Homo sapiens: one gene and its partners. The protein of the gene in region 1 interacts with the protein of each later gene in a pairwise test. Each region holds a gene or a part of one and is shown in the gene's direction. Other genes may lie near its edges. The genes, in order: SH3GLB1, SMIM12, FAM177A1 and BAAT.

Region 1 (7,028 bases):
TAAGGTGTTGATAATAACCTGAAAGTATTAAACCAAGAAGAAGGATGCTGAAAGAAACAATAAAACTCAGAAAATAGAGTAGCAAACGAGATTTTTGAGAAACGAAAGGAGAGAAAGGCAAGGTGAACACTGTTTTGTCAGCCAGAAGTGAGTCATTACTGAGCACAGAATTAATGCTAGTGATATACCTGTGTTAAGATGGGAGGAAGCCACATATTCTAGAGGAAAATGATGCATGATAAACAGCTTGAGTCATCACCTCTAATGTTTAATTAAAAGTATCCAGAAGGCTGTAGATCTACACAGAATCTTTTTACTGCTTTATTATTATATAGGCAGTGCTACCTTTTCTCAAATACCAGTATATTCAATAATAAAAATTGATTCATTGAGTACGTTTAACCACATTTTATGACCTTTAAAAGATGTCTTCATAGTATGAATAGGATATGTTCCAAAAGTTAGTCTATAAATAAATTGCTGGAACATATCCTCAGCAGCTTAAATGACAGGTTTTATGGTATGTTCTGGGAAACTATTTATCTAACTAGGTGTGATTAAAGTGCTAATAAGACATAAACCACAATAAACATTAACAGCTCTTTCAAAACTTAATAATTACAAGGCACCAAACAAAGTGATTTGCATACACAATCATACTTAATCCCCCAAACACTATAAAATATGTATTGTCTCTCTTTTATAATAGAGGGTACTAAAGAAAAAATATTCAATACATTGCTCAGCTCACACAGCAAGGAACAAAGTTAAGATTTGAATTCAGATTCAACTGACTCAAAGCTCTTACTCTTTACCGTTATCCTAGTCTACCTAGGATAGGTAGTTGAAATAGTTGCATGCTTTATATACCAAGAAGTATACTTAGGTTTTCTGTAGAATTCACACCATACATTTTAGCAGAACTAAGGGTATGTGATGACTGTAAGGTAGGGTCATCCACAAAAGAAGTATGGATAAATTACCATAGGAGCAAAAAAAAGTATTCATAAGCAATGGCTTACAAAGCTGGAGCATGGTTATTTGTATGTTTAGGATTGTTTAGCTTTGAATTTGCTTTTTACTTATTGATATGGTTCCCTAAAATTTATTTGCAGTATATTTAATTTTTGTTTTACAATCAATAACAGTTCACAGAAGAAAAGCTTGGCCAGGCTGAGAAGACAGAATTGGATGCTCACTTAGAGAACCTCCTTAGCAAAGCTGAATGTACCAAAATATGGACAGAAAAAATAATGAAACAAACTGAAGTGTTATTGCAGCCAAATCCAAGTAAGAAACTCTACCTCTTGTGTACCTTAAGTACTATTAGTGGGTTTTTAAATGTTAAAAAAAAAAGTTTTAATGGCCATCTGAAAACATAGGATTTTTTTATTGTAGCTTCAAGGTCAGTGGGTTTTTTTGTGTGTGCTTTTGTGAAGAGGAAGTGATAAACAGCTATGTACCTAACCAATTTTAAAATGATATTTTTCAGTCTTTTATAGAATCCTTGTAAAAAATCTCAATTTTAGGCAGTGACTTTGAATTTTAATTTATGAGCAGCTGTGTATATAAATATGTTTTCCTTTTTCATCTAGGGAAGAATTGTCCCTAGATAATTAAGACAAAGTTATATAGTTGCTTAAGTAGGTACCATTTTTTATGTTTAAGTTTTTGGTGTGTTTTTTTGTTTGTTTGTTTGTTTGTTTGTTTGTTTTTTGAGACAGAGTCTCGCCCTGTCGCCCATGCTGGAGTGCAATGGTGTGATCTTGGCTCACTGCAACCTCCACCTCCCAGGTTGAAGCAATTCTTCTGCCTCAGCCTCCCAAGTAGCTGGGATTACAGGCATGTGCCACCACGCCCAGCTAATTTTTTTTTGTGTGTGTGTCTTTAGTAGAGATAGGGTTTCACCATGTTGTCCAGCCTAGTCTCGAACTCCTGACCTCGTGATCCACCTGCCTCGGCCTCCCAAAGTACTGGGATGACAGCCATAAGCCACTGCGCCCCGCCTATGTTTAAGTTTTACATTTTCACATAAATTATTTCATTTCATCTTCAGACAACTATGAGATTTTCAGATAAGTCAACTCAATAATCTTGCAGTTAAGGTGCATAATTGTTTAGTGAATGAAACTCATGAGTTAGCATCTTGTCAAATGTAGCATAGCTAATTAGAAGTGGAAATTGGACTAGAACCGGGTGTATGAACATCCAGTCTTTTCACTGTGAGCTTTGCATATCAAAACTGAAGAACAAAGGTACAATGTATGCTTTCCTTCTTTTTTCCCCAACTTGTTTGGGACCAAGTTGTGATATGACATATGCTTACTTTTAGATACTAACTTAAACTTCAAGCACTATATAAATATTAGCAGTTCTCTATCATTTTAGTTAAATAGTAGTGACTTTTTAAATACACCTTTTGGTTGAAAAACTTAACTGTTGAGTTCTGTGCTCAGTACCTGGGTAACAGGTTCATGTGTACCCCAAACTTCAGCATCATTCAGTATACCCAGGTAGCAAATCTGCATGTGTACTCCTTGAACTAAAATAAAAGTTGGAAATAAAATAAGCTTTTTGCACTTTGAGTGAGTCCTAATGTCTTTGGACACCATGTAATATTTTTTATTCATTTAAGGCCATTTAAATTCTACACTCTGGCACTTTTATTAAAAGTAATAGACATTTTTCCCCTTGTTCTAAACATATTTTTCTGAATGGGAAATAAGCTCATTCACAACTGGTAAACAGGGAAATAAAATACAATTTCCTCCTGCCCCTGTTTTGTGCCAGGAAGTCGTAATAATTGTTTTTGTTTTTTGTTTGTGCTGTGGTTTTTTTGTTTTGTTTTGTTTTGTTTTGTTTGAGACAGAGTCTTGCTGTGTCACCCAGGCTGGAGTGCAGTGGTGTGATCTTGGTTCACTGCAACCTCCACCTCCTGGGTTCAAGCGATTTTCCTGCCTCTGCCTGCTGAGAGTAGCTGGGATTACAGGTGTCCACCACCATACCCGGCTAATTTTTGTATTTTTAGTAGAGACAGGGTTTCTCCATGTTGGCCAGGCTGGTCTCGAACTCCCGACCTCAGGTAATCTGCCCGCCTCAGCCTCCCAAAGCGCTGGGATTACACGTGTGAGCCACCATGCCCAGCCTGTGCTCTGGTTATTAAGTTACATAGGTTTTGAGCAGCCAAACCTAACACTCCTTTTCTTGTAATTCCTATGTTGTTTTCAATGTATGATCTTCTGGAAATGGGTTTTTCAAAAATACGTTATGCAGAAATACATATTACATTGTAGCAGAGTTGCCTGCATATTTAAGATTTTATTATAACCTATTGAAATTAAACATTTATTAGTATTCCAAATATTTTATTAACTGAACGAAGTCAGCATAAGATTCCATTTTAAACTTTTGGCCAGATAGGTGGAAAAGCAGTCAAAATTAAGAATCAGAGTCAAAACACAAAGCTGTTTTTTTTTTTTTTTGAGACAGAGTCTCACTCTTTCACCTGGGCTGGAGTGCAGTGGCACAATCTCTGCTTACTGCAAGATCTGCCTCCTGGGTTCAAGTGATTGTCCTGCCTCAGCTTCCCGAGTAGTTGGGATTACAGGCATGCGCTACCACACCTAGCTAATTTTTGTATTTTTTTTTTTAGTAGAGACGGGGTTTCACCATGTCAGCCAGGCTGGTCTCAAACTCCTGACATCAAGTGGTCTACCTGCCTTGGCCTCCCAAAGTGCTGGGATTACAGGCATGTACCACCACACCGGGCCAAAATGAAGTTCTGAAATTTAACTAGTATCTTCTAAATGGTTATGTTTTAAAAAGCTCTTTTTGGTTTTAACTATTTAAAGGTATTTAATTTCTGCTTTAAAACTTCTGATTTTGTACTAGAATCTACCACAAAAGCAAGTATCATTGCTATACTCTATTTTATGTATTATAACTAAGCCTTTTACCAACTCCTGAAATGTTTCTGTTACTGGTTCAGCTCATTTTTTAAATTTTCAGTGCACTGTGTGAAACTTCCGCATGCGTAGGAATCTATGTGAGGTACTTAGAGGGAACCTATTTGACTTAGCTTCAATTTATGCTTAATCGTTGTTTCTGGAAACTTAAGCCATTTTTTCACTTGTCCTGAAATACCTCTAGGTTGGACAGCATTGTAAATGTTAATATCTTTGGTCTTAAGCATTTTGCTAACCAAGTGTTTATTCAGCTTTTGTTTTTTTCCCCTTTCCATTTATTCTAATGTTCTATTATTGCTTTAACCTTTCGTATTTTAAACTTATTTTTAATGATGAAATCTTTTGAGTGAATGCATGCTCAGAGATATACTTGTATACTTTAAACATAAACTAAAGCCAAGGCATCATATTGCTGATCTGTCTGTAGACTATTCCAAGCCTGGATTGTTCTATGCCTTAAGCGCCTGTGTCTATATTTAGACTCTAGGCAAGAAAAAGAGAGAGCAAATGCTCATGCTAAAGCTGTCAGATGTAAGTCTTTGGTTCTTCCAGGTACTTTATATCTGTATTTTCCTAGCCAGAAATCCTGATTTTGAAATTATGAATGTACATTCAGAGTAAAAATTAGAGTTAAAATGCTACAAACAGGGCAAAGACACCTTCAATAAATATTAAGTGAATTAATCAGTCCTTTTCTGGAACTTAAAATCTTGTAGAATACTCAAATAATAATTTTATTTTATTTTAAAATGCTTTTGTGCCAAGATATTTTATCAAATTTCTAAAATATAATTTTTTAGTTATATAATAGTCTAACATAAAATTTAAAAAATTATTTATTAAGATATGTGCTTGAATGAATGCTAACTTTAGGAGATGATAAATGGCTGCTGATGGGGGAAAAAAACAATCTTCTAATTAGTTTTGCTTTTTAGAAATCATTGGTAATTTTAACCTTTCTCCTAGATGCCAGGATAGAAGAATTTGTTTATGAGAAACTGGATAGAAAAGCTCCAAGTCGTATAAACAACCCAGAACTTTTGGGACAATATATGATTGATGCAGGGACTGAGTTTGGCCCAGGAACAGCTTATGGTAAGTGAAATGCAAAAAGTTCTAATAAGGGATATCTTTATGTTTAGATTTATTAGAGATGTCATTAACATATTAGTAGGCCGGGTGCAGTGGCTCACACCTGTAATCCCAGCACTTTGGGTGGTTGAGGTGGGCGGATCATGAGGTCAGGAGATCGAGACTATCCTGGCTAACATGGTGAAACCCCGTCTCTACTAAAAATAACAAAAAATTAGCTGGGTGTGGTGGCAGACACCTGTAGTCCCAGCTACTTGGGAGGCTGAGGCAGGAGAATGGCGTGAACCTTGGACGTGGAGCTTGCAGTGAGCCAAGATCACACCACTGCACTCCAGCCTGGGCCACAGAACGAGACTCTGTCTCAAAAAAAAAAAAAAAAAAAAAACATAGTAGTAGAATTGGTTTTAACTTCAAATTTATGTTAAAAATTTTTGATGAAGTGAGAAATATAGGCAAATATATACAGTTAAATGTAATATTTAATATATTCAAGCATATATTTAGTTATTCAGAGAATTCACATCTTTTTTAGTTCTAAAAAGTTTAATGAATTCTTCACTTGTTCTCCCAGTGATCTTACAATACCTATGTTATAATACTTGTGATATTGCAATTATTGTTTGCATATGTCTCTTCATTTTTAAAAAAGCTTTCTTAGGGCTTATTTTATGTTAAAGGTACTTGGCACGTAGTTCTTGAACAAATCAGTGCTTTTGTTATAATTTTGCAGTAATGTCAGTAACCAAAAAATATTAACAATTGTTATCTCTGGATATTTGGATTACATTTCATTTCTGTTTTTCTCTTATGTATTTCAAATTTTCTATAGCCGTGGTTTAGTTACACTCGCTTTATTAGTTGCTGTACAGACTTTAAATGTATAGCCCTGAAGCTCAAAGTTACATACACATCTTTATTGTCACTCTAATTTTCTCATAACATGAGACTGTTACAGATTTCAGTAGCTTCTTTTCCTGTTGTTTATGTCTAATAATAATTCTCTTTATACATCTGCAAGATACTGGTCTTTGGATATGAAATGGTAGGTAGATTAAATTAATTTCTACACATAGTTCTGATTTACAGAATGGTTTATAAATTCTAGGATTAAATGAATTTTAAGCTTTAGTAGTTATCTTTATGTCAGAAAGAAATAACCTAAATATTGTTGAATGCCACTAATCCATTGACAGGCTTTTTTAGGTACACAACTTTGAAACTTCTACATTGTGTTCTTCAAAATCTAATTTTTAAGTTTGAAAATGCTTAGAACTTCAAAATAAAATTATTTCTGAATTTTACTGTTAATTTTTAGAAAAATGTTATACATTAAACAGATGTTTTATTGCCTACTTGTGCCAAGCTCAGTTAGATGCTGGGATCATAAAGGTATGTGAAAGGAACCCAGCAGCCCCTTCCTTCACCAGGCTGAAGAAGGTTTTAGCAGAGCATGAACATTAGTAAAGGCTTCTAGATTTTCTTCCCTTTTAAATCTGCTTAATCTGTTTGCACCTCTAGTAATTCTAGTGAATGTACCCTGGTTATTAGAATTGGGCTTTGTGAACCTATTACCTTATTAGTAATTAATACTAAAAATTGAGTATCACAGGCATGGGCTAAGCATTATATAGTATATATATTTACATATTAATTCTCATTTATATCCTGCTTTTAAGATAAATTATATTACCTTCATTTTAAAGACAAGGAAACAGGTTTGGAGAAGTTAAATAATTAATCCACAGTCACAGCTAGTATAGTAATTCAAATGAAGATCTGTCTGTATCCAGTGACGGAGCTCTTAACTACTATCTGTATTACCTTCCTTATCAGTCAGATCAAAGCTTATCCTAACATGAAGGGATTAAGATCCTTAGAGCTAAAGCTTATTAGAAGTAAAACTAGGAGTGGAACCCTGATCTTGGGGCTTCCTTTCTTTCTACTCTACTTTGTACTGTACTTGCCCTATTT
Region 2 (7,620 bases), about 52 Mb from region 1:
GATTAGCTGCTGAAGGAGGGCCAGGGCTGGGAAGAATGTTCCAAGATCAGGGAACAGCTGTGCAAAGGCTTGGAAGAGGAAGAGACATTGGGAGCACAGAGACTTGATTATATCAGTGTTTGGGTCTCATTGAGGCAGGTGGCCTGGGTCTTGTGGGCTGTAGGGAGCCATAGAAGGGTTTTGAACAGAGGAGTGGCATGAACGTTTTATAGACTGGTTTGGTAGACAACTTTGGAAAAGCAAGAGATGGTCCACGTACACACATGAGCCTGGAAGGTGAGGAGAACTCTAATGTGATCTGAATTCCCAAAAGCAGTCCGTTTGGAGGTGATCCCATACAGACTCCTGGGCCTGGTCCAAGACTTAGTGAATAGACTCTGCCCTCGAATAAGGTTTTAACAAGTGCTTCACAAGATTCTGAGCAGCCAGCTTTGGGAAGACTTAAATTGGATGACTGTCCAAAGGTCTCCAGTAGAAGGGCTGGGTCAGTTTACCTCTCTGAGGTTGTTTTATCATCTCTAAAATTGGGGGCATGGGTGAGGTTTGAACTCAGAGCAATGCTGTAAAACAGATATTGTTTTCACCCCCATTTACAGATGAGGAAATGGGCTTGGAGAGGTTTAAACAGCTTACCTCAAACCATGAAGCCAGGAAGTGGCTGAGTCTGAGTTTAACCTTTACATTTATACAGCATTTTATGGGTCTATGACTTTATTCATAGAGTTTTCCATGTCTGGTGTGGATGAGTCTCCTTTGGTTCTTGTGGCCTAGGTAGTTATGCTGAGCCCCATAGATAGTGAAAGATTAGGTCCAGTCCTTTTGCTTGAGTTGCTTACAGTCTGGCCATGGCCAGCATATAAACAGAAAGTTATGGTGCAAAGGGAAACCTGTTCTCCCAGAGGGGCCAAGGGATTGAGAGGAGAGAGCCTCTAGCAACCAGGGTGTTTTAGTCCATTTTGTGCTGCTATAACAATACCACAGACTGGATAACTTATAATGAACAGGTATTTATTGGCTCACAGTTCTGGGTGCTGGGGAATTCAGTGTCAAGGGGCTGGCAACTTGTGAGGGCCTTCTTGCTGTGTCATCCCATGGCAGGTGAGAGGGCAAGAGAGGGCAAGAGGGAGTTGAACTTGCCCTTTTATAAGGGTGTCAATCCACCCATGAGAGTGCAGCCCTCATGGCCTAATAACCTCTTAAAGGTCCCACCTCTTAATACAATGACAAATTTCAGTGTAAGTTTTGGAGGGTACAACCATAGCACAGGCAGTCTGGGAAAGCCTTCTGCCTTGTGAGTTGGATCTTGCAGGATGAATTAGCATTTTGTAGTCAAGGAAGAGAAGGGAGAAATTCATTTCTGGCCAAGGGACCAACCTGGGCAAAGCCATGGAAGCACATGTGTGTTGGGAATGAAAGCATAGGCTGGAGAGGGTGACAGGTTATGGTGGCTGTGGAGGGCGTGGAGGAGATACGGCCAGAAGGGACCCATAGAGTTGGGGGTGGGAGGCTAAGATGGAAACCTCATAGTTTTATTTGAAAGATGAAACTACGGCCAAAAGAAAGGAAATGGACTGGATGGGGCAACAAGACAGCAGGGAGACCATTCAGGGAGCTGCTAAAGTGGTCCAGGTAAGAGATAATGATGTTGACTTTGAGAGACATTTAGGAGGCATAAGTGCAGTAAGCTGGATCTGGAGAATAATGTAAAGATGGGACGCCTTGAAGGTGTCACTCAGATTTCTGGCTTAATGAATGAGTAATGCCACGAATGGACATAGGACATTACAGAAGGAGCAATACAGTTGGGAAATACTTAACATGTCAATAACCATTTACTGAGCACTGAGAAGGTGCAAACTACTATGCCAAGCACTTTATACACATTTAGGTGATTTAATACTCATAGCAACCCTAGGAGTGGGTACTATTATTGTCTTTTTTTAAAAACAAAGAGTGTAAATAGCTTTTCTGAGATAAGCAGACAAGAGTCAGGATTTGAACCCATGGCTATCTGATTTCTCAGTCTATGCTCCTGAGCCCCTCAGCAATTCTGCTTGAGGGAACTGCTAGCCATGACTCAAGACTCAGCTCAAGGCTTGGTTCCTCTAGGGAGCCTTCCCTGAATCTTCCTGGCTGGGCTGAAGATCCTCCTCTGTGCTGCGTGTGTATACTTCTGTCATCACATTTCTTACATTCTATTGACATTTTGTAGACCCATCTGTTTCTTTAGTCAGAGAACTCTGGAGGCAGGTTGGTCCCAGTCATTTTTGCATCCCCATTGCCTAGCACATGATTGGCTGACCAAATGCCAGTTACTCTGGACAGTTCTGTTCCCTTCTCCTCTCCACATATTCAGTTAGTGAGCAGGTTCTGCTAACAACGGTCTCCTAAATATTTATTTGTACTGTTGGGGCTCAGAAAGCGATACCCCAAAGACTGGCGCTTTGACATGCTGAGAGGCCTTCGAAGCTGCCTCAGAATCAAGGTCCCTCTAACCTTCTCTCCCAAGTATAGGGAGGCACTCTCTCTAGAATTTCCTAATCTGATCGAGAAAACGTCTTTCCAAAAGAAACAAAATTGCCTTCCTCCCCTCTCCGAAATCTCATCTAGCTCAGAAAAGAAGACTGAGGAAGGCAACTACGCCTGGATGGATTTTTCACAAGATGATGCCTGTTTCTCGGGCTCATTCAAATTCTAAAGAGAATCATTTACAAGTTAATTTCTGTCCATTTTTTCGCCCTAAGAATCACTTGCTGCCCTCAGAAGAATTGTCTATATTCTCCATCTCTCCCCTTCCCCTATGAAAAAGAGTGTATACGCTTCTGTACCCCATTGGGTTATTGGGTAATCATTCTCCTGTGACCCTTCCCTTCCCACCCCCTCGCCTCCCCGCCCCGTGCTATGCACGTTAAAATAAAATTTTGTATGTCTTTTCTCCTATTAATCTGCCTTTTGTCAGTTGATTTTCAGTGAACCTTGGCCCCTACAATACTGTTCCCTTTTCTCCATCTTCACTGCCAGAGCTTAGCTTTGAGCTGTTTGAGATAATAGAGGAAGGGTGTCTAATGTGATAAGCAGTCTATGTATGAGGCTTCCTCTGGAGGTGACCCTTAAGCTTGAAAATTGTGCCAGAGCACAATCTGGCATAGTAAAGAAAGGTGGGAAGGGCACTACATGGCCAGGCACGGTGGCTCATGCCTGTAATCCCAGCACTTTGGGAGGCTGAGGCGGGCGGATTGCTTGAGCTCAGGAGTTCGAGACCAGCCCTAGCAACATGGTGAAACCCAGTCTCTACAAAAAGTACAAAAATTAGCCAGGCCTGGTGGTGTGCATCTGTGGTCCCAGCTACTCGGAAGGCTGAAGTGGGAGGATCACTTGAGCCCAGGAGGTTGAGGCTGCAGTGAGCTATGATTGTGCCACTGCACTCTAGCCTGGGCAACAGAGCGAGAGTCCTGTTAAAAAAAAAAAAAAAAGCGGCCAGGCGCAGTGGCTCACGCCTGTAATCCCAGCACTTTGGGAGGCCGATGCGGGCAGATCACCTGAGGTCGGGAGTTCGAGACCAGCTTCCCCAACATGGAGAAACCCCTTCTCTATTAAAAATACAAAATTAGCCGGGCGTGGTGGTGCATGCCTGTGATCCCAGCTACTCAGGAGGCTGAGGCAGGGGAATCACTTGAACCTGGGAGGCGGAGGTTGCGGTGAGCCGAGATCACGCCATTGCACTCCAGCCCAGGCAACAAGAGTGAAATTGAACAACAACAACAAAAAAGGTGGGAAGGTAGATGAAAAAGCATCAATAAGGCACTGAGGTGTGAAACAGTGTGGTCTGCCGGGTTTAGTATGTGCGAGCAAAATAAATATGCAGGCTGAGATTAGTGGGATGAGGGTGGGAAGGGCCTTGTGGGAGCATTAACAAGCTTGAGCTTTGGGACTTTTCTGTATATGATAAAATTGATGTCTGTATAGGGTACAGTGGGGACACAGAGGAGGAAGTGAATACTTGTACCCAAGAGGTCATGTAAGACTTAGGTTTTACTATATTTGAATTATTTTTACACTAACAATAGCCACATTTATTTCCCTGCTGGCTGTGTGCCTGCCACAGTACTTTACAAATATTATCTCTTCCAACCCTCACACCATCCTTGCGAAATGGGTGTTATTACCTCTACACAGAAGGGGAAGGGAGGCTCAGACAGGTTAATAATGTTCCCAAGGTCACTAGAAAGCTAGCCCGGATCCCAAGAGGTCTTAAAGCACTAAAATATACTCTTCTAAGAAGAGCTTCTTGAGGTCAGGGATCATGTCTTTTGTTTTTGCGTGCCCAGACCTAGGTCTTAGAAGACGCCTAATAAACATCAGTTGAAAAAAATGACTGGATGATCTTTCACTTTTTCCACGCAGAAAACACGTGGCGACATCACTGAGAAACCTCCCGGCCAACAGAGGGCGCGACGTCCATTTCAGCGCAGTGGGGCCCAGTTGCGGACGCCTAGCTTCCTTCCGTCCTTTGGCTGAAGTTCAGCCAATCCCTGCGCTCCGAGAGAGCCGGCGGCCAGTGGGCAGGGTCACAGGGCAAGGTCCCGCGGGCCGCTGGGTGCGGCGACTTCCGTGCTCCCGGCGAGCGGGCGGAGAGCGGGGGCCGCACTGGGGAGTGTGGGCTGGGCCGCAGGTGAGCGCGCGGTCCCGGCGAGCAGGTCGGGTCAGCCCAGGCCAGTAACCTCTGAGTTACGGGAGGAGTGATCGCTAGGGTCCACCCCGGTCCCGGCCAGATCTGCCAGCTCCCCTCTCTGGCGGGTGTTCTGGTGCCAAGTCTGGGAGCCCAGGTAGCCCTCCGCAGACAGGGCTTCTCGGCACCTCAATGAGGACGGACGTTGATGAGGCCATGAATGAGGTGGGCTAGGGACAGGGGACCGGGAGACTCACAGAAGGGAGAAGGGTAGCCATTTGGATGGACCTTCGCCTTACTTGCGCTCCCATTCCTGGACTGCGCTCTAGTGACTGTCAGGGCTAATTCTTCCGCCTTCTCAGGCCTCCTGTGTCCTTGTTAGTAGTTCTTGAATTTGGGACTACGGCTTCTGGCCTCGTTGGGCCTCCGGGCCCTCGCACTGGGGCAGGTTTCCCAGCAGCCCAGTTGACCTTTACCGGATGCTTTTGGCAGACGTCCTCCATGCCGGGCTGGAAATATGCGTCACAGTGTTTTTCAGACACTTTTGCCTCTTTCATTGTGATACCCTGCCTGGGGACGACTATGATGGAGTCTTTAGGTTTTTGTAATCAGCAAAGGCATCTGTTATGCTCCTGCCACCTTTTGGGGGAGAGTGGGTGGAGGATGTTGTGATTTTACACTAGGGAGTTTGGGCTGTCATTCATTCGTTCAGCAGACCTTTTTTGGGCACTCTGCCAGGCAGGGTAGGAGAGGTGCCTGGATGGATAGGGCATAATTGGGCCAGACAGACACGGTTCTTAGCCTTTTGGAGCTTAAAGTGTCTTGAGAAACGCAGACAGGGTAAGCCAGCATCGTGCCTGACACAGAGTAAGTGGTTATAAGTGTCGAATAAAGGAATGAATTGACTTATTTGGGAATGATTAGAATGTGAGCAGGACGGTAGCGAGAGACTTTATGCTGCATGTGAGAGATAGTTGTGAACTCATGCGCGATATGTTTTAAGACAGGTTTGGAAATCTGAACGGACAGTTGCTATTTAGGGAAGCATTTACTTATACAGAGGACTTGCTTTAAAGGTGGAAGTAAAATGGAGAAGTATTAGGTTTGGGATTCTTCAGAGGTGCCTCTTTTAACTATTACTATGTCTCTGAATTTCATAAATCCCTGAGTACAATCTCAGAGTTTGGGAAAAGGAAAGCTCTTCTAGGTAATGAAATGCCAGGCTGATGGGAAAAAACTGTAGGAAGCTCTCCCTAAGTCCAGGGTTTGGACAGAAACCGTATACCTCTGCAGTGTGTTCTTCCCACTAGAAAGAGTGTAGGCTTTGAAATTGGAGAGGCCTGGGTTCAAAATCAGTGGCTCTATCACTTCTAGTGATCTTGGATAAGTTAACATAATGTCTGTGAGCCTTTGTGGCCTTCACAAGAGTCTGGGCTAATAATTCCTACATCATAGAGGTGTTATGAGGATCAAATGATGATTAGTGTGTAAATTGTCATCATAGTGCCTGGTGCTGAGACAATAAGCGGGGGAGTCTTGGAGATGCTGCAATTTTTTTTTTTTTTTTAAATTTCATGATGCTGCCTTATTGCAGGGGTCCTTAACCCCCTGGGCCACAGACCAGTGGTGGTCTTCAGCCCATTAGAAACTGGGCTGCACAGCAGGAGGTGAGCGGTGGGCAAGCTGGCAAGCATTACCGCCTGAGCTCCACCTTCTGATAGATCAGCAGCGGCATTAGATTCTCACAGGAGTGCAAACTCTATTGTGAACTGCGCATGTGAGGGATCTACGTTGTGTGCCCCTTATGAGAATCTAATGCCTGATGATCTGAGCTGGAACAGTTTCATCCCGAAACCATCCCTCTCCAACCCCCATCTGTGGAAAAATTGTCTTCCACGAAACTGGTCCCTGGTGCCAAATATAGATTGGGGACCGCTGCCTTATAGTGTTACGTCTAGAGAACATTGGGATTCCTTCAAAGAGAATTGGAACCAAAGAGAGAGGGGGAGAATCATCTTATCCTTGGTGAGGTTTCGATTGTTCACTTTAGATCAGAGATAGTAGTGTTGGAGAAATACCTACAGGGGCATAAACAGAAAGATCTTTTAGTGGATACTTTTGGGCAAGTCTCTTAACCCTCTGATAGTGGGTTATGTATCTACCTCACGTGGTGGACATGAGGATTAAGAGAGTGAGTGTATATGAAGCACCTAGCCCAAGGCCTGGCATGTAAGTGCTCAATAAATGGTAGCTGTGTTATTATAACTGTGAATGATCTTTGATAATTGATAATGGTAATAATCATTTGAGATGGAATTGGCCATTAGAGTGATCCAATTTGTGTGTTTTTACATTACTTTGGTATTGCCCTACTTCAATTCAGGAGGCCCTGAGGCCATTCCACTCCGCTCCCCGCCCCACCCCACCCCACCCCACCCCCCGGGCTTGTACAGTGATTTTTCACAGAAAATCTTCAGGTTCTGCGGTATCCAGAGTATGTATAATGATTTGTGATATTTTCAGGAGCTTTTTATGTAAATATGAAGGTATGGGTTTGGTTGAAGATAGGATTTTTTTTTTTTTCTTGAGACGGAGTTTCGTTCTGCCGCCCAGGCTGGAGTGCAGTGGCTTGATCTTAGCTCACTGCAACCTCCGCCTCCCAGGTTCAAGTGATTCTCCTGCCTCAGCCTCCTGAGTAATGGGGATTACAAGCCTCCCAAAGTTCTGGAATTACAGGTGTGAGCCACCGTCTTTAGCCAAGATAGGATATTTTGAAAATGGTTTAGTCAGCAGATTTGTAAAGTATAGGTTTGTTCCATTGTTAGAAAAGCCAGGTTCAGAACAGGATAAAACCATTATCTATTTACCTAAAATCCAGAATAATTAGGTAATGCATTATGTATTTGACTGTTTAAATATGCTCCTTATGCTTTACATGAGGAAAAGGAACG
Region 3 (6,635 bases), on another chromosome or scaffold:
TAATTGCTGTAACATGCTTCAGCAACAGGAACTTTGCTAAATAGGATGTTTCCAAACTGAAGGAGAAACAATAGGGAGTTAATCACTGTCCTCAAGAGCTAGCTAGCATTGGGAGATAGTAACCTAACTTGTACTTCACATTAAAACATTCTTCAGCTTCCAATATAGTTTATTTTTTGAGGAATGAAAAATGACTATGTTAGTTTAGATATGGTTTTCAAGTTCTTTTTTTTTTTTTTTTTTTTTTTTTGAGACGGAGTCTCGCTCTGTCGCCCAGGCCGGACTGCGGACTGCAGTGGCACAATCTTGGCTCACTGCAAGCTCCGCTTCCCGGGTTCACGCCATTCGCCTGCCTCAGCCTCCCGAGCAGCTGGGACCACAGGCGCCCGCCACCGCGCCCGGCTAATTTTTTGTATTTTTAGTAGAGACGGGGTTTCACCTTGTTGGCCAGGATGGTCTCGATCTCCTGACCTCATGATCCACCCGCCTCGGCCTCCCAAAGTGCTGGGACCACAGGCGTGAGCCACCGCGCCCGGCCTCAAGTTCTTAAACCCTTTCTCTTAACAGCTATTTTGCTGCTTTGTCATTTGGTTTCCAATTGATAACATTCTCAATCTGTCTCACTGCTTATTCTAAAGCCTGTATTATAGTTAATTTATATTTCTATTTCATTAATATTCCATTTCTTAAATTGAGATGTGACTAAGTCATATTTGAAGGAAATGAATTATCAACTTATAACTTAATAATGCTAATTTAAAATATAGGTTTTAAATTATGAAGCTTTCTTCTGCTTCCATTTTTAACTCCCTCATAGCTTTTTATCACTTTCTGCATTTTATTAGAGCTAATTGTGAATAGTAATTGATTCAACAAACATTTACTGAGCACTGAATATATGCTAGACAGGTTGGTGTAATGGAAAGAGCATGAGCTTGAGATTCAGACCTAGCTTTGAACTTTGGATCTGCCTTATCAGTTTGGGTTAAGTTCTTTAACCTCTCTACGCCTAACCTTTCACAGTACCTGGCACATGGTAGGCACTCAGTGAGTATTATACTACAAGCCATTCCCCTCCTCCAGCCCAGTGATATCCCAGCTTTCTGAGTATACATTTTTCTTTTTTGAGACAGAGTCTTGCTCTTTCATCAAGGCTGGAGTGCAGTGGTGTGATCTTGTCTCACCGTAACCTCCACCTCCCAGTTTCAAGCTATTCTCTTGCCTCAGCCTCCTGAGTAGCTGGGATTACAGGTGCCCACCACCATGCCCAGCTAATTTTTGTATTTTTAGTAGAGATGAGGTTTCATCATGTTGTTCAAGCTGGTCTTGAAGTCCTGACCTCATGTGATTTGCCTGCCTCAGCCTCCCAAAGTGCTGGGATTATAGACATGAGCCGCCATGCCTGGCAGTATACACTTTTCTTAAAGACATAGATATATAACAGATACACCTAGTGATAAGTATTCTAATACAGACATGAAAAGACTTGTTGGGAGTTTTGAAGCCACCGGTACTTCTTGAAGAAAATCAGGGAAGATATACAGAAGATAGATCTATTAGGTTTTTATAATCTCCTTGAGAGCAGGAACAGTAACTCTTGTATTCCTACAGTGTCTTACACATAGAAAGTGCTCAAGAAATGTTTATAGAATTATATAAGTCTTTTAACTTTTGTATTTTCAGTGTGTGACTTCCTTGGAGAGAAGATTGCATCTGTTTTGGGTATCAGCACCCCAAAGTACCAATATGCCATTGATGAATATTATCGGATGAAGAAGGAGGTATGCCTCCTTTTTACATTTTCTTGATTCAGTTTGGTTTGCTATGGACTTGATGGGTTGCATAATGAGCCTATGTATTTTCTAACTGCCCAACATGTAGCTCTCTTATGCTAGGCATTTCATTCTAGAATCATTAATTTCTTTTATCAAAGTAACATACATTTTGGAATTCCTTTAAACTGGAATTTTCCTATGATCTGTGTGCAAAACTAAGCTAGATTTCATTGTCTTAGTGCTATGTGAGATGCCTTATATACATTATTTAATCTTCACATGCCTCTCTTTGGATTATCATTCTAATTCTAAGATGAAGAAACAAGATACTTAGAGCACATGGACTGGATATAGGAAAAGTGGAGTGGGTTTGGCACAGATAAAAATTTAAGTACAAGAAATGTGTATGTGCCAGGTGTTAATGCACAAAAATTTGAGGGCAGTTTAAAAGTAGTGAGGTCTTAAGGTGAGAGTGAAGTGAATTTTGTCTTAAAAAATAAAAGCCTTTAGTGCTTAAGAGCATGGGCTCAAGAACCAAAGGGCTTGAATTCAAAATCCGTTCTACCACTTAAAACTTTGTAACCTTGGACAGAACACTTAACCCCTCTATAAGCCTCAATCTCCTCATCTTTGTAATGAGGAGAATTGCAGCATCCATGCTCGGGGGCTGCTCTACAGATTAAATACATTAATATATAAAATGTTTAGAACAGCACCTAGTGAGCACAACAAATATTGGCATCTGCTATTCTTCAAGCAAATAGAGGGCAGCAATTCAGGTAAAGCTAGAATGTAGAGGCATGAAGGTACATTGTTATGGTTGGGGAAATGGCAAAAATATAATAGTTTATTGTCACTGGAGCATAAGGTACAATGTGGGAGTGACTGGACATGAGCCTGGAAAGGTCAGCTGACTTAATATTTGTCATATGGTTTCAAACCTGTTTTATGAACAAATAAGTATTTCTTAACACTGTAAGCCTTGCTTAGAGCCTCATTACCTCATCTGGGCTATTATACTAGCCTCCTAAATGGTCTCTATTCTCAAGCAAGCCCCAGAGTAATCTTCTGGGGTTACTCACTGTGTACTGACTACCCGTTCTGCAGGGTCCAATACAAATGCCACCTACTCAATGAATTTAGTAGTTCTGCAACTAGAAATTATTTACCCTTTCAAAATCTGTACATCTGTCATAATACTGTTTTTACATGTCTTAACTTCCCTACTAAGTTGTAAACTTCTTGAGGGTAGGTGCTGCCTTATCTATGTATTTGATGCTTATGGGAAAACTAACTATGCTATATATCATGTAGTAAATGAACCAACCTATTCAACCGAATAGACTGACACCCTACAATTGAAGTGATACAGTTGAAGCTAACTTTTTATTTATTTAGCTTAGACTTAATCTGAAAAAAATAAAGTCCTTGTCAAAGTTAATTCAGGTCTCATCTACGTGATGTAGTGCTGGACCCTGTTTTAAAAAGTAACCTCTTTTGGGCTGAGCGCGGTGGCTCATGCCTGTAATCCCAACACTTTGGGAGGCCGAGGTGGGTGGATCACTTGTGGTCAGGAGTTCGAGACCAGCCTGGCCAACATGGTGAAACCCTGTCTTTACTAAAAATACAAAAATTAGCTGGGCGTGGTGGCAGGTGCTTGTAGTCCCAGCTACTCAGGAGGCTGAGGCAGGAGAATTGCTTGAGCCTGGGAGATGGAGGTTGCAGTGAGCCACTGCACTCCAGCCTGGGTGACAGAGCAATACTCTTTCTCAAAAAAAACAAACAACAAGAAAAAACTACTTTCCTTAAAATGTTTTACAGTGGTTATTTCAATTAGAGAGCAGGAGAAGGGAAAGTATGTCTTAATTAGACCAAACTGATTTGAACATGACACTTTTTTTTTTTTTTTTTTTTAAACATAAGCTGACAGTGGGGAAAACAGCACTATATACCTTTTGGACTTTCGTATTTCAACTATTCTTGATATTGCTCCTTTTTTTTAGGAAGAAGAAGAAGAAGAAGAAAACAGGATGTCTGAAGAAGCAGAAAAACAATATCAACAGAATAAATTGCAGACTGATTCCATTGTTCAGACAGATCAACCAGAGACAGTGATATCCAGCTCATTTGTGAATGTCAATTTTGAAATGGAGGGAGACAGTGAAGTAATTATGGAAAGCAAGCAAAATCCAGTCTCTGTCCCACCATAAAATGAAATGACTATCAAGCTTCAAACTCTTAAGTTTTTTTTTTTTAATACAAAAACTTTCACATTCTTTATTCAGTGGGACTTAATACAATTATTTATATTTTAAATTATTAAAGTATCTGGAAAGGGAAAATGTTTTCTTCATTTTTAGGATCTATCTAGCAAAAGCCAGATCTGAAATTCAGATATTTGTACTGTTTTTACTGTGTATAGAAATTAGTGCTTTGGTTTTAAAATGATCTTTTAAAAAAGTTAAGGACATCCTAGAGCCTTAATAGTTAAGAAGAGTTAAATTATCAAGCCTATTTGTGCATTTGCTTTTTTTGAAAAAGGTAAGTTGCTGATTAAGTCTAATTGGAATTGATAATTCCATAGTCTTAGATTAAAATGAGGATATTTTCTCCTAGATTTTCTCATGTTATGCCATGCATTTATATATCTAACCATTAATTTCACACTAAGGATGCTTCACCATATAATAAAAGGAGCAAGATGGAAGCACTTTGAATTTTCTTTCATTGAGAATAACTGTTTTATGTAAGAATCTGTATTTATAACACCAGATATTAAGATAGGCTTCCATTTTTTAATGCAAGCCACTTACTTAATCTTGTATTCTTTTTCAGGACTCAAATAACTAGCTTTGAACATAATATTAAAACACTACTTATAGAATAGATTTATTAATGTTAATACCTAGTGAATATCCATGTGGCATCCTGGTTATGTTATCGGTTCAGCGTTAATCCTATAGAAAAGTGGTTTGGAGGGGATTGGGGGATAGTGGGACAGGTATAGATTTAATCCATCAGGAGCAATTAGATATTGTATAAGGTGCAATGATAGCCTAATGAAATTACCCGTCATTCATCATTTAGAAGTAGCAACAGTGAAGACTGGACAGTTTACTTGAATCTGGTTGGCCACTCCTCTACCTACTTGGTTATTTGTAAACCTTACAAATGTATATATTGTGAAGCTAATTTTGAAAATATTCCTAAATATGGCCAGGTACGGTGCTCACACCTGTAATCCCAGCACTTTGGGAGGCTGAAGTGGGCAGATTACTTGAGGTCAGGAGTTTGAGACCAGCCTGGCCAACGTAGTGAAACCCCGTCTCTACAAAAATACAAAAATTAGCCAGGCGTGGTGGTGCACGTCTGTAATCCCAGCTGCTCGGGAGGCTGAGGCAGGAGAATCACTTGAACCAGGGAGGTGGAGGTTGCAGTGAGCCAAGATTGCACCACTGCACTCCAGCCTGGGCGACAGAGTGAGACTCCATCTTGGGGGGAAAAAAGTATATATATATACACACACACAGACACACACACACACACATATATCTCTAAATGTGTGTATAGAACCTTTTATCAGTATAACATTGATTTATAATTAAATGTGGGTGAGGAAGAATGTGTGGAGTGTTTCAGAAATTTTGATCTTAAAAGCCTTTTCAGAAACTCAAAGCTTTCAGAAATTAATAGTTATATTAATAGCCTTCTAAACAGCATTAAGTTTTCAATTTTAATATATCTATATAAAATATAGTGTCAAAGAAAGTAACATCAATATAGTGGGTCTGTAATGGAAATCTGTCAATGAACATGAACTGAGTTCTTCAACTACAGGTTGAAGGATAATTAAACTTTTCATTAGGAGTGTTCAGCTACATGGATTCATGGAATGGTGGTTCATAGTAAGTGATGGTAATCTTTTTATTCATGGGTGTAAACCCTTTATAACTTAGTGCTTAAAATATTAATCTTTTGATTATATAATGTCCCATGAATTATAGTTTACCAATAGTTCTAAAACATGCTAACCTGACCTTTTCCTTCTAATTTGTTTTTAACTTCATTCGAGATAGTACCTCTCACTCACAGATATTTATTTGGTTATCAAGTGAAGATAGGTGTGTCTAAAAGTGATCTTCTGAATCCTGTCTCCCTAGAGGTACTAGTATCTAGAGTTTACCCAGAAAATTTTATGATTGTAACAAAAGGAAGTAGTGACTTATGAAGGTTTTGTTTCTTGAATTTTACTTTTGCTACTTGTCCAATAGTGGCTAGTTTATGTTTATCAATATAGTTATTCACTGTGCCTTAAGTTTATACTTTGTTTATGCAAACTATAAAATTTCCCATAAATGTATTCAATGGTTTGTCTTACTTTAAGCCTCTTTCACTCACTTTTTCCTATCTCCTTTTCAGTCCTTTTAAGAATTCCAGTTCCAGCTGGGCACGGTGGCCCACGCCTGTAGTCCCAGCACTTTGGGAGGCCAAGGTGGGCGGATCACTAGGTCAGGAGTCCGAGACCAACCTGGCCAACATGGTGAATTAGTAGAGATGGATTTCTACTAAAAATACAAAAATTAGCCGGGCATGGTAGCAGGTGCTTGTAATCCTAGCTGCTCGGGAGGCTGAGGCAGGAGAGTCACTTGAGCCTGGGAGGCGGAGGTTGCAGTGAATGGAGTTTGCACCATTGTACTCCAGCCTGGGCGACACAGCAAGACTCGTCTCCAAAAAAAAAAAAAAAAACAGAATTCCAGTTCCTTCTGGATCATAGTTCATATTTACCTTCTTCTAATCTTTCAGCATCTCATAAAAACTAAATGTAATGTATAACTGAAGTCTTTATCCTGAATTAACATA
Region 4 (7,028 bases), on another chromosome or scaffold:
CATCTTATCTGTCAGTGACTATGACATGTAGACTCTTGATAAATTCTTTTTGAAGTACTAATCAATTTGACTAAGAGTTGGAAATGTAGATTCCATTTCTGACTCTCATGTATTTCTGTATGATCTTAAGTACTCAATTTCTTGATTACAAGAAAACAAATGAAATACGGTACTTGGAAGCTATAGTATCACTTATTTTTAAGCTTCTCAGGAAACATATTCAATGTTTACTCACCACTGAATTATCATTCTCAGGACTTCTCTCTCTGTAGGCTCATTCTTGTCAGCATGTATTTATGTCTGTGTCTGTCTCATCTCTCATCTATATATACACATATATGCAACACAAACACTGTTGCATATATTTTCTTTTACTTTCAATCTGTCTTTTTTTGACAATGTGTTTCTGAAAAATAACCACTTGCTTTTTCAATTAGTTTGACAATCTGTCTTCTTTTTTATTTTTATGTATGTATTTATTTTAGAGATAGGATTTCAGCTCTTTCACCCAAGGTGGAGTCAGCTCTTTCACCCAGTGGCATGATCACAGCTCACTGCATCCTTGACCTCTTGGGCTCAAGCAATTCTTCTGCCTCAGCCTCTCAAGCAGCTGGGACTACAAGTTTGCCCCACCACACCCAGCTAATTTTTACTTTTTTTTTGTAGAGATGGGATCTCACTATGTTGCCCAGGCTGGTCTCAACCTCCTGGGATCAACCGGTCCTCATACCTCAGCCTCCCAAAGTGCTAGGATTACAGGCATGAGTCACCACGCCTGGCCTGTGTCTTCTAATTGGAGTGTTTGATCTGTTTGTATTTAACGTAATTATTGATATGTGTGGGTTTAAACTCCCATTTCCATTCATCCCATTTATTATTTGCTCCTTTATTCCTCCTTTCCTCTTGTGGCAGATTGCATTTCCCAAAAATGTATACACAAATACACATACAAATACACACACACAGCCAGGTGCGGTGGCTCATGCCTGTAATCCCAGCACTTTGGGAGGCTGAGGCAGGCGGATCATTTGAGGTCAGGAGTTTGAGACCAGCCTGACCAACATGCTGAAACCCCATCTCTACTAAAAAAACACAAAAAAATTGGCCAGGCATGGTGGTGGGTGCCTGTAATCCCAGCTACTCGGGAGGCTGAGGCAGGAGAATCACTTGAACTGGGAAGTGGAGATTGCAGTGAGCCAAGATTGCACCACTGCACTCCAGCCTGGGCGACAGAGCAAGACTCCATCTTAAAAAATAAAAAGCAAATACACATACACGTTTCATCCACTTAAAAAAATTTTACAATGTGATTGACATATCTCCTACTGTTAATAGGTATCAACATTTTCTCCACTTGAATTTTGATGGGAGCTTGTGGCTGCTATTAAATGGCAGAGATTATGCTATGTGATTTCCAGTGCTAGGATATAAAAAGGATACAGCTTCTACCTAGCTTTTTCTCTCTTGTGTTGCTTGCCCTTCCAACCCAGCCACCATGCTGTGAGTAAGCTTGCTCTGTGGTAAGTGAGCAGGTCTGTGCAAACCTACCCCCAAAGGCCAAGGGAGCTGAGACACTGAACAAAGAGAGTGACAAAACAGTTTCTCAGAGAGAAACATTTAATAGGGGCTTACAAACAGAAGCTGTGTCTCAGGCAGCTGTGAGACAAAGGATCCCCTCACTGTTACTCCCCAGACCCAGGGTTGATATACCATAGGGAAAGGATATACATGCTTCAGCAGGAATATGTAGGAATTTGCCTAAGGGTAGGATTTATGGTAGGTGCTCTTATACAAGAGATAGTAGATAAGGCAGAAATCTTAAAGGCATTCCTAGAAGTGGGATTAATCAGATGTCAACTGGCAGATTAGAATTCAAGATGGAGTTGCTATAACCTCCACACTCCAGCTTTCTAATTGGGCTTTTAGAATCTCACACACTGTCCTCTTCTTCAATGGTCTTTGAGTTTAGAGGAAGGGTGCTTGATATTGTACAGCTTTAGCAGCAGTGCACTGGCAATGGGAAACAGATCAGGCCCAGTGGGATTTCAGATGAGAAAAAATGCATAGGCTTTCTTGAATCATCTCTAGTCTTTGGAGTACCATGATTTTGATTTTCTTGGATGAAGTAAAACAATGAGAGATAAATAACATTAATATGCACACAAGGGACTACAATCAAAAACAGAATTTGTATGCCAGAACAACAACAACAAAAAAGAACCTATTCCATTAGGGAGCCAACTAAAAACAACATGAAGAAAATTAAAACCGGGTTTGTCTTTAGAGACTTCTTGTAGCCACAAAATAATTTAGGATTTAGTCCAAATTGTAGGCAAGTAATAAAAACAATGGTTAAGACTAGAATCTAATCATGGGTGTACAATAGTTTTCTTCTGAAACAATTTTTTTCTAAGTTTCTCTATTTCTACCAAGGATAAATTATTGTAGGACCAATTTATTTGCAAAATGAATTTTAGTCTCATTATGCTTGACCTGATTATTTGCATAAAGTGCAGCAAGAATAGTGATTGGCCATATAGGTTCTTGTAAAATTGGCTTTTTTGGAACTTTTAAATAAAGAATCTCAGATTTTTTTAAAGCCTTGAGGCTAACAAAGCCAGGGATTTGCCATCAGGCTGCAATAGCTGTATAAATTGGGTGAATTCTTCTAAAGATTTCCAAATAACTGGAGGTTCCTGGGCATGTCAAAATGCGACATTCGCCGGATGCGGTGGCTCACGCCTGTAATCCCAGCACTTTGGGAGGCTGAGGCAGGCGGATCACCTGAGGTCAGGAGTTGGAGACCTCCTAACAATGGTATTTCTGGTTTTAGATCCTTGAGGAATCACCATACTGTCTTCTACAATGGTTGAAGTAATTTACACTCCCACCAACAGTGTACAACTGTTCCTATTTCTCCACATCCTCTCCAGCATCTGTTGTTTCTTGACTTTTTAATGATCACCATTCTAACTGGCATGAGATATTATCTCATTGTGGTTTTGATTTGCATTTCTCTAATGACCAGTGATGATGAGCTTTTTTTAAATATGTTTGTTGGCTGCATAAATGTCTTCTTTTGAGAAGTGTCTGTTTATATCCTTCACCCACTTTTTGATGAGGCAGTTTGTTTTTTTCTTGTAAATTTGTTTAAGTTCCTTGTAGATTCTGGATGTTAGCCCTTTGTCAGATGGATAGACTGCAAACATTTTCTTTCATTCTGTAGGTTGCCTGTTCACTCTGATGATAGTTTCTTTTGCTGAACAGAAGCTCTTTAGTTTAATTAGATCCCATTTGTCAATTTTGGCTTCTGGTGAAATTGCTTTTGGTGTTTTAGTCATGAAATCTTTGCCTGTGCCTATGTCCTGAATGGTATTGCTTAGGTTTTCTTCTAGGGTTTTTATAGTTTTAGGTTTTACATTTAAGTCTTTAATCCATCTTGAGTTAATTTTTGTATAAGGTGTAAGGAAGAAGTCTAGTTTCCATTTTCTGCATATGGCTAGCCAGTTTTCCCAGGACCGTTTATTAAATAGGGAATCCTTTCTCTGTTGCTTGTTTTTGTCAGGTTTGTCAAAGATCAGATGGTTGTAGATGTGTAGTGTTATTTCTGAGGCCTCTGTTCTGTTCCATTGGTCTATATATCTGTTTTGGTACCAGTACCATGCTGTTTTGTTTACTGTAGCCTTGTAGTATAGTTTGAAGTCAGGTAGCATGATGCCTCCAGTGTTGTTCTTTTTGCTTAGGATTGTCTTGACTATATGGGCTCTTTTTTGGTTCCATATGAAATTTAAAGTAGTTTTTTCTAGTTCTGTGAATAGTATTGAATTTATAAATTACTTTGGGCAGTATGGCCATTTTCACAGTATCACTTCTTCCTATCAATGAGCATGGAATTATTTTTCCATTTGTTTATGTCCTCTCTTATTTCCTTGAGCAGTGGTTTGTAGTTCTCCTTGAAGAGGTCCTTCACTTCCCTTGTAAGCTGTATTCCTATGTATTTTATTCTCTTTGTAGCAGTTGTGATTGGGAGTTCACTCACGTTTTGGCTCTCTGCTTGTCTAATATTGGTATAGTAATGCTTGTGATTTTTGCACATTGATTTTGTATCCTGAGACTTTGCTGAAGTTGCTTATCAGCTTAAGGAGTTTTTAGACTGAGATGATGGGGTTCTCTAAATATAGAATCATGTCATCTGCAAACAGAGACAATTTGTCTTCCTCTCTTCCTATTTGAATACCCCTTATTTCTTTCTCTTGCCTTATTGCCCTGGCTAGAACTTCCAATACTTTGTTGAATAGGAGAGGTGAGAGAGGACATCCTTGTCTTGTGCTGGTTTTCAAAGGGAATGCTTCCAGGTTTGCCCATTCATTATGATATTGGCTATGGGTTTGTCATAAATAGCTCTTATTATTTTGAGATATGTTCCATCAATATCTAGTTTACTGAGAGTTTTTAGCATGAAGGGGTGTTGTAAACATTTTAGCTTTTATAATCCTATCAATCCTTATATTTTATGCTCTAGTCTCAGGAACTTCTGTACTCCACCCCCAGACCATTTTACCCTCTCTTGTGAAAAAACCTCTGGGTTCCCAGCAAGGAGTTGAGCCAAGGGATGTGGGCCTTTTTGTCAATCTTTATCTGATTAGTCTGTCTCCACATTGCCCCAGGAAATTATTAATCAGCTTTCTCATTGTAATTTTTGCCTTCTGATTTTTGAAACTTCCCCAATCTGGTGTAAATATAGAAAACTGATTTGGGGCTCTTTAATGTTGGGGAACCAGCAGGGACTCCCTTTGGTCCACCCAACATTTGATAGTGTTGTATTAAGACTCAAAAGGTAAACAAAAATTTTATTATCTCTCATTAATACTATCCAAAAATCTTGTTCAAAAGAGAAAACTAAATTTTGCTTTGTATTAGAGTATTATCAATAGTAAAGCTAATTTTAATAAAATTTTATGAATGATTTCATTGACTCTCACTCAGCTTTTGACCACACAAGAATTCCATAAAGCTTTTCTCTATCCAAAGGAATATAAATAAATCACTCTACCATAAAGACACATGCATATGAAAGTTCATTGCAGCACTATTCACAATAGCTTTTCACAGTTTCAAAGACATGGAATCTACCTAATGCCCATTAATGCCCTCTTACAAAATTGCTTTCTATGTTTCTCTTTCTCTAACTTTTAGATCTATTTATTTGTATCTATATCATTTCTTCCATTCATTTTGAAACAATCTTTAAAATACCACTAAACCGGGCCAGCATGCCTACATGCTCCTAGTCTTTGTGCACGAGTGGGAGGTGGCAGGCCTCCAACAATGCAGCTAGTCTTTGTGCGTGAGTGGGAGGTGGCAGGCCTCCAACTGTGGCCTTCTCTGCTGACTGTTCTAGTGAGGCATCCCCAGCCATGAACCATTTTGGTACCTGGTTGGTGGGAGGCAGGGTGACCCCATTGCTGCCACTGAAAGCCCGCAACAATGAAAATCTCAACAAAATTGGTATGTCTTTGGATGATATCATCAAACTAAATTGACAGGGAGGAAAGAAGCATAATTTTCTAACTGGAGCCTGGCAATTCAGGATGAGCATATGATGGAGAATTCAACAGAATTCTGGCTTTGGTAAGACTAGTCTGAGCACAGAGGATGAGTAATGCCTGGAAAGAGACAGCTTTATGGAGTTATCACTGGCCTTGCATCTAGGAAAGCAACTGGAATTCACAAAGAAATTAATCCTATGAATCATCCGTCTCTAGGTGACAGGAATATAGAACGATATTTTCTAGTGTTAAAAAGGAAGGCAAACCTTCTGGGACAAATATGAAGTGCAGAAAAAAACCAGTTGCAGTTCTCAAGGGACCTAACCAGCTAAACAGAAAAAAAAAACATTCCAGCCAATTTTACCAAGAATGGAAATAAATTAAGCCATCAGAAACACATGCGTCAGGCAACTTTTCATTTCAGAAGAGACGTGAAGGTTCAGACCCAGTTGAACACAACAGCAACTGCTGGATAACGTAGTCGGAAAGAGAACTCATCAATGGCAGATTTTTGTTGCAGGACTTCTTTTTAGTTCAGCTAAAGATGTGGTCCTTGTCCCACGGCCACAAAAATTTAGGCTCACAATTTGCGGAGTGAGAAAAATGGAACTTATTGGGCAAAAAGGAGAAAAGGGGGAACAGTTACTTTCGGCAAAGCCGGAATCGCAGCTAGTGCGCTCCCTGCCTCGCCATTTGAATCCAAGGTTCCACACAGGAAGAGGAGGGGCCAGGCTCCTCCCTACTGCAAATAGCAGAAACTTCGGTGGCACCCCAGTGTGCATTCCTCCCAGTTCGCCCGCGGTTGGAGTTTTTCCATGGACTCCTTCCCACTGGCTGTCTCACTTTCACCACAAACGGAGGAATTTTGACTCTATCTTTGGACAATCCTGGAGCAGTGCAATGCCTAACACAGAAATCAGGATTAATTCATACTGCTGTATCTTCATTTTTAACAAAATGGAAGCAATCTGACATAACGAAAGTTCCTAAAGTGGAACCCTACAATTGACATAAATTGTGCTGGAAAACAGACAGAGATGACTTTGAATGAGAAGTTTAGGATCCTGAAGGAACAAAGAGCCACTCTGACAAACAACAAAGGAGGAAGCTGCTTTGTAACTGTATTAGTCTGTTCACACACTGCTAATAAAGACATACCTGAGAGTAGGTAATTTATAAAGGAAAGAGGTTTAATGGACTCAAAGTTTCACATGGCTGGAGAGGCCTCACAATCATAGCAGAAGACAAAGGAGAAGCAAAGTCATGTCTTACATGGTGTCAGGCAAAAGAGCTTGTGCAGGGAACTCCCATGTATAAAACCATCAGTTCTTGTGAGACTTATTCACTACCATGAGAACAGTATGGGGGGGAACAACTCCCGTGATTCATTTATTTCCACCTGGCCCTGCCCTTAACATGTGGGGATTATTACAATTCAAGGTTAAGATTTGGTTGGGAACACAGCCAAACCATATCAGT

The links.
Region 2: the proteins of SH3GLB1 (region 1) and SMIM12 interact in binary tests that used the Homo sapiens proteins (3 or more experiments, as listed by UniProt).
Region 3: the proteins of SH3GLB1 (region 1) and FAM177A1 interact in binary tests that used the Homo sapiens proteins (3 or more experiments, as listed by UniProt).
Region 4: the proteins of SH3GLB1 (region 1) and BAAT interact in binary tests that used the Homo sapiens proteins (3 or more experiments, as listed by UniProt).

Annotation. Positions count from the first base shown.
Region 1 is NC_000001.11:86,714,576-86,721,603, forward strand, and holds part of SH3GLB1 (endophilin-B1), read left to right. Parts: intron 1-1,148; coding exon 1,149-1,290; intron 1,291-4,931; coding exon 4,932-5,060; intron 5,061-7,028. UniProt on the Homo sapiens protein: May be required for normal outer mitochondrial membrane dynamics. Required for coatomer-mediated retrograde transport in certain cells. May recruit other proteins to membranes with high curvature. May promote membrane fusion.
Region 2 is NC_000001.11:34,856,729-34,864,348, reverse strand, and holds the start of SMIM12 (small integral membrane protein 12), read left to right. Parts: upstream 1-4,599; 5' UTR 4,600-4,672; exon of another isoform or gene 4,673-6,870; coding exon of another isoform or gene 6,871-6,898; exon of another isoform or gene 6,899-6,979; coding exon of another isoform or gene 6,980-7,163; intron 7,164-7,609; exon of another isoform or gene 7,610-7,620.
Region 3 is NC_000014.9:35,077,244-35,083,878, forward strand, and holds the end of FAM177A1 (protein FAM177A1 isoform 1 precursor), read left to right. Parts: intron 1-1,683; coding exon 1,684-1,781; intron 1,782-3,778; coding exon 3,779-3,985; 3' UTR 3,986-6,135; downstream 6,136-6,635.
Region 4 is NC_000009.12:101,374,993-101,382,020, reverse strand, and holds part of BAAT (bile acid-CoA:amino acid N-acyltransferase), read left to right. Parts: intron 1-7,028. UniProt on the Homo sapiens protein: Catalyzes the amidation of bile acids (BAs) with the amino acids taurine and glycine. More than 95% of the BAs are N-acyl amidates with glycine and taurine.